Linked DNA regions of Homo sapiens: region 2 is linked to region 1. The links come from fine-mapping of genetic effects on gene expression. Tissue or cell type: gastroesophageal junction. Region 1 holds a variant in brackets; the other region holds the start of a gene. All regions are shown on one strand. Distances are between the middles of the regions.

Region 1 (8,125 bases):
TTCATATTCAGAAGAAAGAAACTAAATGTCTGTCTCTTGCCATGTACAAAAATCAAATCGAAATGGTTGAAGACTCAAATATAAGACCTCAAACTATGAAACTATGACAAAAAAACTTTGGGGAACTCTCCAGGACATTGGACTGGAGTAAGATCACTTGAGCTAAACCCAACAACCACAGGCAACCAAAGCAAAAATGGACAAATGGGATTACATCAAGTTAAAAAACTTCCACACAGCAAAAGAAACAATCAAAAAAGTGAAGAGACAACCCACAGAATGAAAGAAAATATTTGCAAGCTACCCACCTGAAAAGGGATTAATAACCAGAATATATAAGAACATCAAACAACTAAATAGAAAAAATCTAATAATTGGATTATTTAAAAAATGGGAAAAAGATTCATTAGGCATTTCTCAAAAGAAGAGATACAAATGGCAAACAGGTATATGAAAAGGTGCTCAATATTATTGATCATCAGAGAAATACAGATTAAAACTACAATGAGTTATCATTTTACCCCAGTCAAAATGGCTTTTATCCAAAAGTAAGGCAATAACAAATGCTGGTGAGGATGTGGATAAAAGAGAACCCTTGTACACTGTTGATAGGAATGTAAATTACTACAACCACTATAGAGAACAATTTGGAGGTTCCTCAAAGAACTAAAAATAGAGTTACCATGTGATCCAGCAATCTCACTCCTAGGTATATACCTAAAAGAAAGGAAATCAGTATATTGAAGAGATACATGCACTCCCCTGTTTATTGCAGGAGTATTCACAACAGGCAAGGTTTGGATGCAACCTAAGTGTTCATTAACAGACAAATTGCAATGAAAATATGGTACATATACACGGTGGAATACTATTCAGCCACACACAAGAAAGAATGAGAACCTGTCAATTGCAACAACATGAGTCATTTTGTTGAGTGAAATAAGCTATGCACAGAAAGACAAACTTCACATGTTCTCACTTATTTGTGGGAGCTAAACATTGAAATAATTGAACTCATAGAGAGAGTGAGTAGATGGATGCTTATGAGAGTCTGGGAAGGGTAGTGGGAGGGGGTGGAGGAGAAGTGGGGATTGTTAATTGGTACAAAAATTGTTAGAAAGAATGAATAAGACCTAGTATTTGCTAGCACAACAGGGCAACTATAGTAAAAAATAATTTAATTGTACATTTTTTTCAAATCACGAAATGTGTAAAACTGGATTGTTTGTAACATAAAAAATAAATGTCTGAGCTGATGGATACCCCAAATGTTTGATGTGATTATTATAGATTGCAAGCCTGAATAAAAATATCTCATGTAACCAAGAAATACATACACCTATTATGTACTCACAAAAATTAAAATAAAGAATTTTTATAAAAGAGTGATATGAACTAAGTTTTAATTTTGAAAGCTCACTCTGGCTACAAGATGAAAGATGGATAGGCTGATAAAGTGGGGAAGAAGGGACACACTGAAGGTAAAAGGTTGTTAGTTTGGTATTTCACTATTTCATGCTAATTAAAACAAAAGCCTGCTTGAACTCAATATTAGTTGGTGTCATGCAAAATAGGAAATAGATTTCAGAACAATTCAGGAGGAAAGATCAAATGGATTTGGCAATTAATTGTATGTGATGGTTGAGGGATAGGATTCAATGGGAAATGAAAAACTGGAAGGCTAGGTGTACAGTGATGCTTTTTACAAAGCTATGAGATGAGAAATAAGAAAATATGGAAGAAAAAATTTTGAGTTTTCTCAAAAAGAGCCCGTTAAATAGTAATATTTCTGGAATATATGACTGGAAATATGTGGCAAGAAGTTAGATTGCCCCTACGGAAATCAAGGCTATAGATGTCCTATCTGATATCTACCTACAGTATCTCTCTTAGTATCTACATGTGTGTCTCACATGCATATCGGAAATGGGTTCCGTAAAAGAGAAGAGGGTGATATATAAGGAGGCTGAGATTTAAAGTAAGAAGAGGGGTAGGCTGTGAGAATAGAATACGAGAGATCACCAGTTTAAATGGTATGCAGAAGAGATGTTCATGAGAGAAACTTAGAAGTAGAGGTCAGGTCGTAAGAAGACAACTGGTCTCATAGAAGGCAACTAGGAATTATGAAAGTCAAAGAGCTTATGTATCCACCCTGTGAAATGTATTACTATAGGTCTTTATTCCAGATATATAAACATTTAAATAAGTCTTTTGGTGGTTTACCCTTGCCAGGGTAATTTCAGTCTGTTTGGCACAAAAGCCAAACAGCTGTGAGTTGCATGGTAAATGGAAAATGAGGAAGTGGGGACAAGGAGTGCAGACTATCTTTTCATGAAAAAGAGGGCAAAAAGGTTGTAACCACAAAGAGGCACAAAGTCAACGTAGCCAAATTCAGGTTAGGCGAGAAATGAGGATGCTTAGGAGAAAAAAAAAAACTACAATAGAATGAGGAAGTTTACAATGTTGACATGATAGTAGTAAAAGATAGAGCAAGATTAGAGGGGACAAGATAAATGGAGTTTCAGAGACAGCAGGACAGGTGGAATGAGGAGGAGAGATACCTCACCTCTAAGAATAAAATACAGCTACATAGCCTGTAGCTCCAGCTACTCGGGAGGCTAAGTTGAGAGTATCATTTAATCCCAGGAAATCAAGGCCAGCCTGAATAACATAGCAAGACTTCCATCTCTCTCTTTACAAGAAAAGACATATAAACACAATTTTCAATTCCACTCCTGCCACTTAGAATTGTGACATTAGACAATTTAACAAAACAAATTCCTAACATTATCTCAGCATATAGGGCAAGTAGTTTACATAAAGCAAGTAAAGCGTGGGATTTAAAATTAATATTAATATTAATATTGGATTATAAATGAACATGAAGAAGGTAGAAGGGTGTGTGTGTGTGTGTGTGTGTGTGTGTTTGTGTGTGCGTATGAGATGACGGAGGAGGGAAGCTAAGGAAAACCATACCTATTTCCACACGTCTTGATGCTGTCCTTGAGAACTTCTTTCCTTTTGTTGTTTCTCCTGTCCACATTCCATGGCATAGAATGGGGGTGTGAGGCAGACAAGATATGTGATTCTAGAAAATTCAAAGTTCGATTCAAAATTTGCTGATAATCTAGTTTGTTCAAGGCATTTCACCAAAGGAGAGTGTTAAAAAAACAAACAAACAAAAAAGATAATTAAGCAGAGAGACCCAGCCCAAAGAAGCTCATGGTCTACAGGGGTAGAGAGGTAAACACATAAATACCTGAAGGGTAAATACATAGTCACTTGAAGTTGCATCTTTTTTCTCTTTTACAGTAAAATAGAACTCAGCCATTTTAAAACACCACTCTAATGAGATCTTTCAAGCTCTTGAAATGTCATTTGATGTATAGATACATTTGACATACATTAAAGAAGTAACCTAAAAGGTTTATCAGACCAAAGGAAGTGTGACTTTCCAGCCTGAGATGGAGTGACGGAAGTCATTGAAATGATTTATTGATAAGTGATAATATGCAGTTGTGGTTCAAAGAAGGGCAGAGTCAGCTCCTAATAAGAAAAAATTTCATTCCAAGGGTATCCTGCATTTTTTTATTTATTTCAGAGATAAAAATAGGGTGTAGGCAGGGAGAATTGGTTTCCTTGAAACAAGAACTTTTGCAAAGTGAAAAACTTGAAATTAGATTATACATCAGCATGAATAAGATAGCCTAGCATGATCTCCACTTTCAACTTTGGTGTGTTGGTAATATGCCTGGCCTTGGCAGAGTTATTTTTGCAGAAATAAAGATTGCCTTTCTTACATAGTATTCTCTCCTTCTTGGACCTGTGGAAAAAGCAGGTTCTTCATTTGCAACTCTTAAGATTTTCAGATCAGTAAACAGTATGACTATACACTTAGCTCTGAAGCTCAGTTGTGAGATAGATAGAAAAAATATTTATGTTTATAAGGTGAATCTCTGATTTAATATGTTGTTAGAGTTGATATGATTTATTTCCAAATACAGCAATTTTTAAATGTCTAATATTTTATTTAAATGCTTATGTTCACCAAATTTATCCCTGTAAAATGCCCAAATGTGCTAGCTGAACAGTTTGAATTTTAAAACTTTTCGTTAAAAATAAAATGTTACTAAAAGTAGAATCTATGATTTTCAGTGAATTATTCAATAAAATACTCAAAAGAATAGAAGGCACAGAGTACCAAAGTAAAAAGATTAAAATATATAATAAAAGTGATAGAAATGTAAAATATTTACTGAAAATCACATATATATTATTTATATTTTATTTCTAAGGATTTTGAACTCAGCATTGCTGTTAACCCATGACAATTATATTTTCTGGATAGAAAGGTGTTCAATGGGAAGCACTCCTCACCTCCAAACAAACCTCTCTGGTGTCTACTGAATGTTGTCCGACTACAAATCAGAGAAAGGTTGAGAGTAATAGCAATTTCTCTGTCCTCTACAGGACAAGCCAGTTGGACTTGACTTATTCAAGAAATACCTCACCACTCACTTTGTACGGGTAACCAAAGTACCAAGCATGATGTCTTGTCACAAGTAGAAGAGATTTTGACATAATATAGCTGGGAAAGAAAAGAGTGGCAACCCAGAGTTATGTAGTGTGTTGGGTCAGGTATATATCTAGAGATATTTGGAGACTCAGGGAAAATTTAATTCAACTTTATAATCTTTTTCACATTTTCTCTCCTCTAGTTTTGTTCATTTGTAATTATTCTTACATTATTCAAGCTTTTTTTTTTGGCTGATTTTACAGATACATATATATGTCAAACTCCAGATCCTCCTGCAA[C/A]AAAATCATTGCTTTTCTTTCTTTCTAGAACAAATTGAAATTAACTCAACTGGCCTAAATCAGTTTGGATTGTACTTAAGACCTGTGGATTAAGTGAATCTTTTTCTGAAATAATCCCAAGTAATAATCCCATTACAAGTAATGGACAAAAAAAAATCATTCTATGTCTTAATCTCATTACTCTGTACCTCAATATGTTCTAATTCAGATAGGATCTATAAATAAATATCATGAATAAATACGTATAGGGAGACTGGCTGGTGTGCTGAGCACAGTTTATAATGTTAAAGCTAAAGGGGGCCTTTCCAACAAATTCAAGTATAAGTTCAAACGAGAAAAATCACACATTATTTCCTATTTACTATTGGCATTTCTTATCCCTAAGGAAGTAGTAGTAATAAGTGGCTTTAGAAATATGTGTGAGTGTGTGTGTTTATGCATGCGTGTACATATGTGTTGAAAAGCAGCATGGATTTTGTTGAGCCAGCATGAAGTCTTACAAGAGAGGAGACTATGCATGCTTTTTCAATTAACTCTGTCCGTAGATACTTTTCATACAAGTAGTGAAATAAATCATAATAACTACTTATCACCGATTATTACTTAAAGCATTTTTTTTTGTTTCTGTGTACTACTTCTTGTTCATTTCCTAGATAAATTTCAATGGCTAAGACTTTTATGTCAGGGTCACTTTCTATTAGATAATGCTGACACAAAAATGTTTCTGCCTCTTGTGATAGAAAATTACAAACAGGATCACATGCTAAAGGAAAACAATCCTTCTTCACAATTAAAATTTAAATCACTCTACAAACCAAGTAAATGCTGGTGTGTTTTTCTAACCTTCTCTACGGTAGTCGATACATGGGTCAGAAAAGTAGAGTGACTTTTAGATTAACAAATGTATTAAAATAGCAAATTCTAAGACGCAATCAGTAATACATTCAGGAATTTTTGTACCAGAGCCAGTTTCTAAAGATAGGGAAAAATCAGACCAAAAGAAAATGGCAAATAACAACAAACTAGAAAGGGTTGGTTTACACACACACACGCGTGCACACACACACACACACACACTTGATTCTCAACCACGGACCCGAGAACAGCAAACTCTTTCAAGTTGTATATGTATATTCTCACTTCTCACTCCATCCTTTACAACGTCCTTTCATATCTGGATCTCAGCTTCTTCCTTGCCTCATTTTTCTTTAGATTATAATATATTTATATTTCTACAACTGGTACAGATTATGTTAGCATATTCACCTGGAGTTCTATGAGTGTAGCTGCATGACCACAGATGCTTGATAATAAAAAAGGGGGGGTGGGGCTGCATTAAAGTAGCAGATATGACTCAATGAGAAGACCAAGGAGAGCTGTGATGGTAGAAGCTAGAAGGCTCGGTTAGGATTGCCATGGCTGTCACATGGCACCTTAGCTATGCTTGCTTCAGAGTCCACTTTTCTTCCCATTTCAACATCAAGTAGCTGAAACAGGCTTAAACCAGTTTTTCTGTTGGCTGCTGAGCCAAAGAGACAGGAAATCATTAAAGGGAAAACATTTCTAGCAAAGGTCACTTTAATAGAAAATTACGTCAATCACTTTGAAGAAAAAAAGTACATTTCAATTGATGTCATTTGTCCATAGGATAACATCCGTTTTCGTTTCTGACTTGAGTTTTTAAAAGTTCGTCTAACTTTTGAAACAAGTACATTAAAAATTAACCATCCCTTCAACAGCGATTTCAATCATTTGAAAGGGAAGAGATGGTTATCAGCTATTTCATGTCAGAAGCTAAATGGTTACCTACTTGGAAGGGAAGAGAATTTTTTTAAATGTACTCCCAGTGGAATGCTAAAAGGAGCAAACCTTTCTGAGCAAGAAGATCAAGTGTTTACTTCTTAAGCATACTTTCTTCCACAATTGAAATTTGGTAATACACATCTTAAGGATATTGAAAATTTTTTTTCTCACTATGAGTCTTAAGCATATGCCATTTGCTGCCTAAAAATATCTTATTACTTTGGTTGTTTGTGTGTGTTTTAGAAAGAGAGAGAGGGAGGGAGGGAGAGAGTGGGAGGGGAAGAGGAAGAGAAAAAAGAAAAGAGGAAGAGGGAAAGAAAATTTACAAAATGTCTAGTAAATGACAAGTACAAATGCTGCAATTGTTTCTGGTTTTCCCTCAACCCTATGAGAAGGGTTTCTTGAGTCTGCTGGCCTGAAATGCCCATGCTTCAAGCCAGACCCTTTTTCCCGTTTATTTCCACTAATCTTTCTGATCTATACAATGGCTGAAATGGTTTCTCAATCATCTCTCATTTTAAATGTACAAGATATAAGACTCATATTAAACTATAGGTTCATTATGTAGGCAAAACTCTAGACATGATTCTACCCGAATGATCAGCCTTAAGAGGCCTGCGTGTCCCTGGCTCCCAGGCTACACACATATTCCTGGTCTCTGATCCTTTCTTTCCCTTACATGCAACTGTAGCACAGTCTATGCACCAAAATGGGAAAGCATTTGTTTAAGAACAACATCTATATGCTCCATTGCAGTGCTTCTTATAAAGTGTGGTCCTCAGACTAGCAGCCCCAGCCTCGGAAGACTCAGGCTTCATCTCAGACCTACCAAGTTAGCAACTCTAGAATTGGAGACCAGCAACCTGTGCATGATCAAGTTCATCGCGTGATTTGGATGCACACTAAAGTCTGAGAATCACTGCCCTATTGGAATCAAATACAGAATGGTTGCCACCTTTCTCTTCTCTACCCAATAGCCCTGAGCCCCTGGACCTGATAAAAATGAAACGAGTTATTTGACAAAATGTGCTGGAAGAAATGAACAGAAGTTCTAGGGCTCAATTAAAAGTTGTCTTCCATTGGCATAGGCTGCTTCTTTCCCAAGGCCAGGTTCAGGGAAGTCACCAGGCCAGTGGCCATCAGAGGCATACCCCTATCAGATATGAATGGATTTAATCCATGGAGTAAGTCTATCTTTTACAGTGATATGGAAGCATATTAATTATCATCTGGCCGGATATAAATTTCCCCAAGGATGGCCTGACTCTTCATATTCTCACCACAATGCTTTTGTCTGAAAACCATTGACACAGACAGATTAAGCCAGAAAAGATGAGTTCATATTTCTATTATCATAGGGAGATGAAGGCAATTGGTACTAACAATGACCTCTTATAATTTGGTAGTTACTAATCTTCTCAATTGGAGCAGATTTCTGATAATTCCTACTTTCTCTGTAAACTAATATATTTTTCATTCTAAGTCCCATTTTCACTCTATTTTAGTC
Region 2 (8,125 bases), 580 kb after region 1:
TCCTTAGCTCTCCTTCCACCATGTGAGAATACAAGGAGTCAGTCTATTGCCTGCAACCCAGTAGGGGGTTCTCACCAGAACCTGACCATGTTGGCCCTCTGATCTCAGATTTCCAGTCTCTAGAGCTGTGAGAAATAAATTTCTATTGTTTTAAAGCCACTCAATCTATGGTCTTTGTTACAGCACCCCAGAATGTCTAATGCACCCATGATTTGGATATTTTAGACATCTACATATTAATTTAATATGGTGAGAGTTAGCTCCTGTTACCAAAGAGGCCATGAATCTTGAGAATAAGCTAAAGCTATTCACACCTGCACTGAACATTTATCTTACACCTACTTTATGTCAAGTATTTTACAGTATTTATAAAAAAGACACATTTCTTTTTGGACCAGATATATTGCAAATATGCCATCACTACCACTTCGGCATATTGAAGTTACAAATATTGAAACAACCCTGCCAAATCTCTAAAGAGAAGATTTTTAGGCAGCTAAGAACCTAGAAAAATGAACAACAGTTAGAGACCTAACAAGATTACAAATAAATGGATATCTAAGTTGAAGAAGAATGAGGAATGTGTAGAAACCAGCCAAAGATCTAAAGCCAGAGAACTGAAAGATCAAACCATTCTTCTCCAAAAGGAAAAAGAAAAAAAAAAAAAGTAGAGTTGAAAGGTTAAATAAAAACGGAAAAATAGTTTTTTCCAAAGAAAGTTAAATATATATATGGCTAGAAAAAGCAAAGAATGATAAGAAAAGGTAGGTATCCCCTAAATGATTTATCTTGGAGGCAATGAAAACTCTAAAGTCAATTTCTGATCAGTGTATATCATATAAACAAATATGCAAAGGTATATTGAGGAAAGCTGGTTTAATATATGCACGTTAGTTTGGGGAAGTATATCAAATCCACTTAAACTGCTTTTTTGGAGAAAAAGTCCTTACCACCTGATTGCTGCTGGAGGAGAGAACAAGATCTGGAAGGGAAGGGGTTTTAATGTTGAAAAGTCTCTGATGATTCTGATTTACTTCCTTGAGTTTAGATCCACATGTTTAGTTGGTGATTCACTGAGCTTCTGCAAAGGTCAGAGCACATGTTCCACAGAAAAACTCACCTCTGAAAGACTCTCCCACTCCTGTAGTGGGAGGTGTTACCTAACTGGAGAGGTTCCCATTTACATATCACACTTACTTGGGATTGCCTCATAGTCAAAGGAATCCTGGGAATGAGGGATGATACAGGAAGAGAGGAAGGGAGGTCAGTTCCAAGATTTTGACAGATGAAAACAAGTATTTTTCCAGGTTGGGAGCCAAAATCACAAAGATCTTGGTATATTCCAGAAGAGAGTTCTCTAATCTCTGCATAGATTTATTTTATTTTTACTACAGAAGGGCCTTAAATGACCAGATAAAGCAGAGGATGAGAGTTCAGAAAGGCTTTCTTGGCTTGAGAGAGAAGGGCAAGAGAGAGGAAAGGCTGAGAACTGTCTGTATTTCAGGATCTAGGCCAAGGGGCCAACGAGAAATAAGAAGGCCACTCTTGGTATTGTTTATTATATCCTATTGCAAAGGGCTCCCATAGAAAGAACTGGGATCTAAGGGCCTGTGAAGGAGGATTAGGTGGTGAGTAACATCTCCATATAGTCAGTATGTTTTAAACCTGGAGGAGCATGGCTAGAGACAGGGGGAAGAGCCAGACTTGGCCACTGTCTAAGAACCCTTGGTAGGAGTTTCAGCCCTGCAGGTAACTCTTTTTTGCAATGTCAGCACTACAGGACAAAGGTGGGAAAGAGGAAAGCACATGAATCCCAGATTCCTGCACTCAGAGATTCCGAAGGCGACTTATTGTGGCCTCTTAGGTGTTAGAGGGAAGGCTGGGGGTGCCTGAAATCCCTGCCCACTTCCTGGCTGCCCAGGGCCAAGGAGGGCCTGGTTATAGGCCCAACTCAACAAACTTCTCCCCCATCCATCCTTTTACCACACCACCCCCAGTCATCACAGAAAAATGACCCAATTACTCAGCCTCCTGCCTTAATTGTGGGACACATAGTGACTAAGTGTTCACAATTGCCCATTTCTTCCACCCCCCCCCCACCCGCCACTTTGCCTTGACCAAACATGAGTCAGGCTTCTCTCCAGCAGGTCCCTGGAATTTAGCTTGCCCCCCAAATCTGAGCAAGAACTAAAATGTGAAACATTCACCATTGTTAGCTTATCTTCCAAATTCTTGGACCACAGAGACACATTTCTTGTTCAACCAAGAGGGTCTTGAAGTGAGTTGTTTCCCCCATCCACTTGGCTTTGCCTATTGCTTGCTCCCCCTTATATATATAGAAAAAAAAGGCCGATTTCTGTTTGGTTTTGAGAGGTTTGCAGATTTCTGAGATCAGAGCGTTTTCCCTGTTGCAATAGTCTTTCTTTCTAATGGAAGTCTCCCTATCTTATCTAAATTCGGATTTGTTTCTGTTTGACGTTAATGTGTAGCTAAGAGTGATCCCAGGTGAGTCTGAGCCCGCCTTGGTGGGGAATGAAGCCTGGAGCATCGGAGCATTTGTCTTTCTCTTAGAAAAGGCAAGGAAGCCTGAAATGCGCAGCTCTCCCTTGAACTTCAACTTTTTAAAGGGGAATGAATTTCTAAAGGAGGAGTTTCCAGTCTAGGGCTGTAGGGGCCTCCGGGCAAAGGAAGTGCTTGTTGAAAAACAACATTGTGATCACTTCCAGCGGCGAAGGGTGTGCTTGGGAACGGTTTGGGGAGGGGACAGAAGAGAGAGGGGTGGGATGGACGGCGGCAGAAGTGGGAGGTACACGAGGAGTTACTGGAAACGGCGCTTCTGTGGAGGAGCCGGGGGGGATGGGGAGTAGAGGGAGGGGGCCCTGTTGCCTCAGCGCCCCGAGGTCGTGGAGCGGCAGCAGCTGCAGCCGGAGCAGCACCAGCAACAGCAACAGCGAGCGGGACGGAGTTAGGACCGCTCGGAGCGCACAGGTCTCGAGGTAGTATAAGGTTTGCTATCCTTCCACTTGCTGGCAGTTGCAGAAGAAGATCTGCTTTTTAAGTGAAACGTACATGCCACCCCTCCGAGGGCTGCGGCTTCCCCGGGCTTGCTTCTTTGCCGCTCCTCTTTCCGGCTCTCGCGCTCACTCTTTAATTGGCACTGGCCCCTAAGTTTGCCAGGAGCTCGCTGCCCGCTCGGAGCAGGGTCCCGGCCGGGAGCCGCTGGTGGGGGCGGGGAGTCCGGGAGCCGCAATCCAGAAGCGTCGTGGGCCATGTATATTTCATCAAACGGACTTTGGGTGCGTCGCGTCTCACTGCCATCAGTGCTATGTGCAGTGACATTTCTGACTTGAGTGGAGGAATGCGCGAAGGAAACCCGGGCGAAATTGGTATTAGAGGATCTTCTTGGCGCCAATGCTAATTGTCCTGATTTATGCCCCTTCTGACTAAGCTCAACGTCTTCATCTGAAATAAAATGAAAGCGGTGCCAAGCGGCATAGAACCGCCTGGCCGCTGGTTCTGATCCCCGGGAACCAGAAAATCGTCCTGCGGCTTGAAAAAAAAAAAAAGAGGAAAAAAAAAAGAAATAGAAATAGAAAAAAGAAAAAATATCCCTCAGTAAAAGTTTAAGGCGAGAAGTGTCAGAGGCAGCGGAGCGAGGAGGCGCGGAGGAGAGCCGGCGAGCAGGGGACTGGGCTGGCACGACCTCCGAAGGCTGAGATCTCATTATTAATATCACTATATTTTTGGAGGGAGAGGCACCTTTCTCATCCTCTCTTCCTCTCCGCCCACCCTTACTCCCTCCCCCTCATCTACCTGTCAAAGTCACTGATCTTTTGCATTTCGGAAGAGGACGTCAACGGGAAGGAATTCCCCCTCTGGGTGCGGGCTCCGAGAGGGGGCGACTTGCAGGAGGCTCCCCCCGGGGGCGGAGGCGAAGGTAATTAAGCGGCGGGGAGTGGCGGGCCGGCGCTGGGTTCTCGGTCCTCGGGGTCCTCTCCCGCCGGCGGCCGGGCGCGATCGGAATCCCCGGGCTGCGGCGGTGGCGGCGGCTCGGGTCCTCACGCCCACCCCTCCCGCTCCGCCCGCTCCCGCCTGGGGAGGAGGCTCCGCGGGAGCTGCCGCCCTCCGCCCGTACGCCGCCCGCGGGCTCCGCTGCTGCGGCCGCCGCCCGAGGCGGACCAGGCTGGCTGCGCAGGGCCGCCGCCCCGCGCCGTCGGCTCGGCTCCCGCCCGGCGCAAGGGCAAACGAGCCACACGGTAAGTGCCTGCGGCTCGCCTCTCCTACTGCGACCCGAGCCTCTCGCCCGTGCCCCTCTCCCCCGGGTTTCCCCACCCCCCGCCGCCCCCCGCCCCACCCGCTGCGATGCACAGGCGGGAGGGAAGGCTCCGGGTGGGCGAGGAACTTTGTAAAGCGCCCCGAGGAGGCAGCGCGCGGAGCCCTACGCGCACACACAGCGGCACACGCTCACACCCACACACAAGTCTTCCCGGGGGTGCGCCCCGGGCCGGTGATGCGTCCTCTTGTTGTGTCCGGAGCCCAGGCGTGGGGTCTGAGCCTCCATCCGCCGACTGACAGGGGCCCCGCGCTCTCCCTCTCTCACGCACACCTGGCCACACACATCGCTCAGGCGGCTTGTCGTTATTTTTTCTTTCTTTCGCCAATTATATTTGTTTGGGGAAAAGCAAACAAAAAAAACAAAAAAACACTTGCCCTATTGCCGGCCTTGGGGATCTGGTGGCCACATCGAGAGCTTTTGAAGTCCCTTCTTTTAATCGCCTTTATTGGTGCTAGATTAAAACATTACTATCCCATGTTGTGCAGCTGGGGAGAAAGGGAAATTGAAAGAGGAAGACTTGGTGTAGGGATGCTGTTTGGAATATTCTCTCATATTCTTTACTGGCATCATATTAATCGGTTGATGGATTCGGCTAGGGACACTGAATTGCACTCCTGTATGGATCTGTGGATATCTATATATAATACAAATAATACTGAATATTATTGGGCCTAAAATAACCAATTAAGTGATTCATACAAGGAAAAACTTAGATATAAAAAGAAACTGCGCCCTCTGCTGTTAATTTTAGTACCCTCACCCGGGGACTTTTTTTTTTTTTCCTTCAGAAATCCACTTAAGAGTAGGCTGTCATCTTACAGGGCAAGGGAAGAAAATTCCTAGCGGGGATTTTAAAGCAACTTTACTTGGAAAAGTCGCAGGTTGAGCTCCTATAGTTGCATCAGGTACAGATTTCCAGTGAGTAGACGGTCCTCCTCTCTCACCCATTCTTCTCTTTATACAGGGAATAATGGAGCCACTCCTCATAACAAATTGTCAATCTTTGGAATGGAAAATTCTGAGTAAGATTCAGAACTCCACTAAACATATGGTGAATCTGGCAGTAGAATTGCTCTAGAAATAAGGCCCTGTTTTATGACTGAAAATACTAAAAGTTGTTTTATCTTACAGAAATGAAAAAAAAAAAAACCCAGGAAGATCTTCCATTAAAATCACTTATTCAGATATGCTTAGTAGTTAAGCTTGTTGGAAAGTTTTCCAAAAAATAATTTTTTTTTTTTTCAGGGGAGGCTTTTCTGTTTTGTTTGTCCCTTGAGGAGGATCTCTAGTGAGGGAATTAGCAATTCCACATTTCATTAAGTATTTTGAACTGTGTCACTTTGAATGCCTTACCCGCCTCCCTTTCTCTTTGGCAAAGGAAAAGCAGCTCAGTAACTGTCCAAGATTCTTTTTGAAGATAAGCAACTTTCGATTTTTCATTAAGATAAAATTTGGATCTCTGCATGTGGATCAACATGCAAGGAAAAATGTGCATCAAGTATTTCACATGTAATGTTGTTCCAGGGATATATTTTCTTTTCTGGATGCCGTGAAATGAGATATATTTCACCCACTGAAGACCACCATGAAGGCATTCAGGATTCTATATACTGCACTACTAATTTGGTGGTATTTCCTTACTGTGGAATTTAAGACGGATAATCTTAAAACTTTTGCATGGAAACAGTTTATTTGAACATAAAGCTGGTTTCCTGTTAATATTTTTGTTTTGTCAGTTTTCAATGGGTATATGTGTTAAAATGATTCAGGTTAGCCTTTTTAGGAGGAGGCAAATGTATTTTGCAGTTTCCTTTTGTATATTTGCAAGTGGTGCAAATACCTATTTTTGCTTCCATTATTATTCTGAAAAATATTCAGGTAATTTGTTTAAAAAGTTAAACCATTACACATTTATTTGATAGGATTTCTAAGTGTCATAAAAATTTGGAGAGTTTTAGTTACAAAGGCATCAAGTCACTTGGAAAAAAGAAAATTGGATTCAACTTTGAAAACCAATTATATGTTAACATTGAAATATATGTGTGTGAATTATATTGTATAGGAGATTATATTAGTAAAGTCTTAGGTTAGTATGAGATTTAGCATACTTTAAAAAATAATTTTATTTGCAGAATCCAAAGTTCTGTTTCAAAACTTCAGGTAGGTGTAGATTTTCTCATATATGCGTTTGAGACCTTAGATCTCTGAACTTCCCTGCATGAGAATTAAATATTTGTTTTTCATGTGGTAATTAAATTCCAGATTTCTTCTAGGCTTAACTGATTCTGAAATAGTTTTGGGTATTATCCCATCCTCAATCATCCTGCAAAACATGTGCTATCTAATTTCTTGAATCAGTCTTCTCTCAATGAAAATAGAGATCTTTCAATTACCACGGTGTGTTATTTGGGTTTATTAAGAATCTCATGATAGACAGTTGCTCATAATACCCAATCAAGTGTGAGTAAGCTATGCCAATGATGTTGCAGTACATATTAAATTCCTTATATTTTGAGAGACAGTTAACAAAAGGATAGAAGCATATGTTTTCCATTAAGTTGACTAGAAAATGCTTTCTTCAGAACAAATAGCTGCAAAGAGCATTGAATACATGTTAAAATATCTTATGTAATAAATTTCATTATGACTGTTGGAAGCTGCTAATTTTGATAGGTTATAATTTTGTATATCTTTATCTTTTTATATTTTCACTCAATGATCTATATAGTCAATTTTCCTTTTGTTCCTTCCCATTCAGAAACATGCATATTTATAAAATTCTTAATGTGAATGAGGAATGAGTCAATAGTTGTGTATTTCAGGTACCCCTGAAAAGCTGAATATTTATGAAAAAAATAGCTTACTACCACCATTCCCACCTGCTAGTGAGATTATATAATAAAATGAATGCTGAAAACCAGCTAGATTAGGAGATTTACTGATAATGTCTTCCTCTCAGTTGATGAAACTGGCAATTGCTTTTGGAATATAATTGCCTGTAATATTAACCATTATTACTTCCATGTAATATTTTGGGAGGCTTTTTTTTTCTGGTGAAAGAAAGGGCCTGTGAAAATGGCTTCTGCAAAATTAATCCAAGGTGGAAGGGAATTAGCTGCAGAATCCTGGACAAATACATGTTTTGTGTGTGCAAAGGCATTTTATAGCCCATTTTAGTCCTGATCAATAATCTCTATCAACTTGAGGGCCATGACTTAATTTTACCTTTTATTATTGGTTCTGCAAATTTATACACCGGAGGTCTATGGGGTACTCACAACCTATTAATGGGTATTTTTATCAAAGGAGACTTCTCAGTACTTTAGTTCCCAAGTAGAGGTGGTAGCATTTTTGATTACAGTGAGTTCCCAAGGTCTGCAAAGTGAAGAGGTAGAACTGGAGCTGCCCAGAGCTCTTATGAATCTGTTCTTATTTAGGTGATACGGACACCTGAGACAAATTTAAAGGCCACGTCACTTCACAATTAGTTCAGTTATGGGCCAGAAGGGATAGGTTTAGTATATTAAGTCCCCAAATATGTTATTCACTGTCCTTCTCATAATTGGTTTCCCTAGCTATTTGCTGTGATGACCTAGCTTTTAAGAAGCTATTGATAATTTTAACCTGTTTGAAAGCACAGCAGATAGACACAGTGCCATTAAATAGTGGAGGTTAAGTTGTAAATAATATTCTATTTTTACATCATTGTATTTTCTTTGAAAACTCTGTAATTATACTTTAATAACAAATTCCTGATTTTCAGAGGCTGCTTTTCCATTGTGTGTCATG

Evidence for each region. PIP is the estimated chance that this variant, and not a neighbour inherited with it, causes the effect.
Region 2: NTNG1 starts here. The variant in region 1 is fine-mapped to the expression of NTNG1 in gastroesophageal junction (GTEx, PIP 0.99).

What each region holds. Positions count from the first base shown.
Region 1 is chr1:106,562,098-106,570,222 of GRCh38, forward strand. No RefSeq gene overlaps it. Among named protein-coding and RNA genes, the nearest start is that of LINC01661, 250 kb to the right of the region's middle. The variant C/A (reference allele first, on the strand shown) is at 4,816.
Region 2 is chr1:107,137,204-107,145,328 of GRCh38, forward strand. It overlaps NTNG1 (netrin G1), which reads left to right and starts at 3,836. Exons shown (of 8, transcript NM_001113226.3): 1 at 3,836-3,937. RefSeq lists an enhancer at 3,476-4,007 and silencers at 3,941-4,230, 4,251-4,530.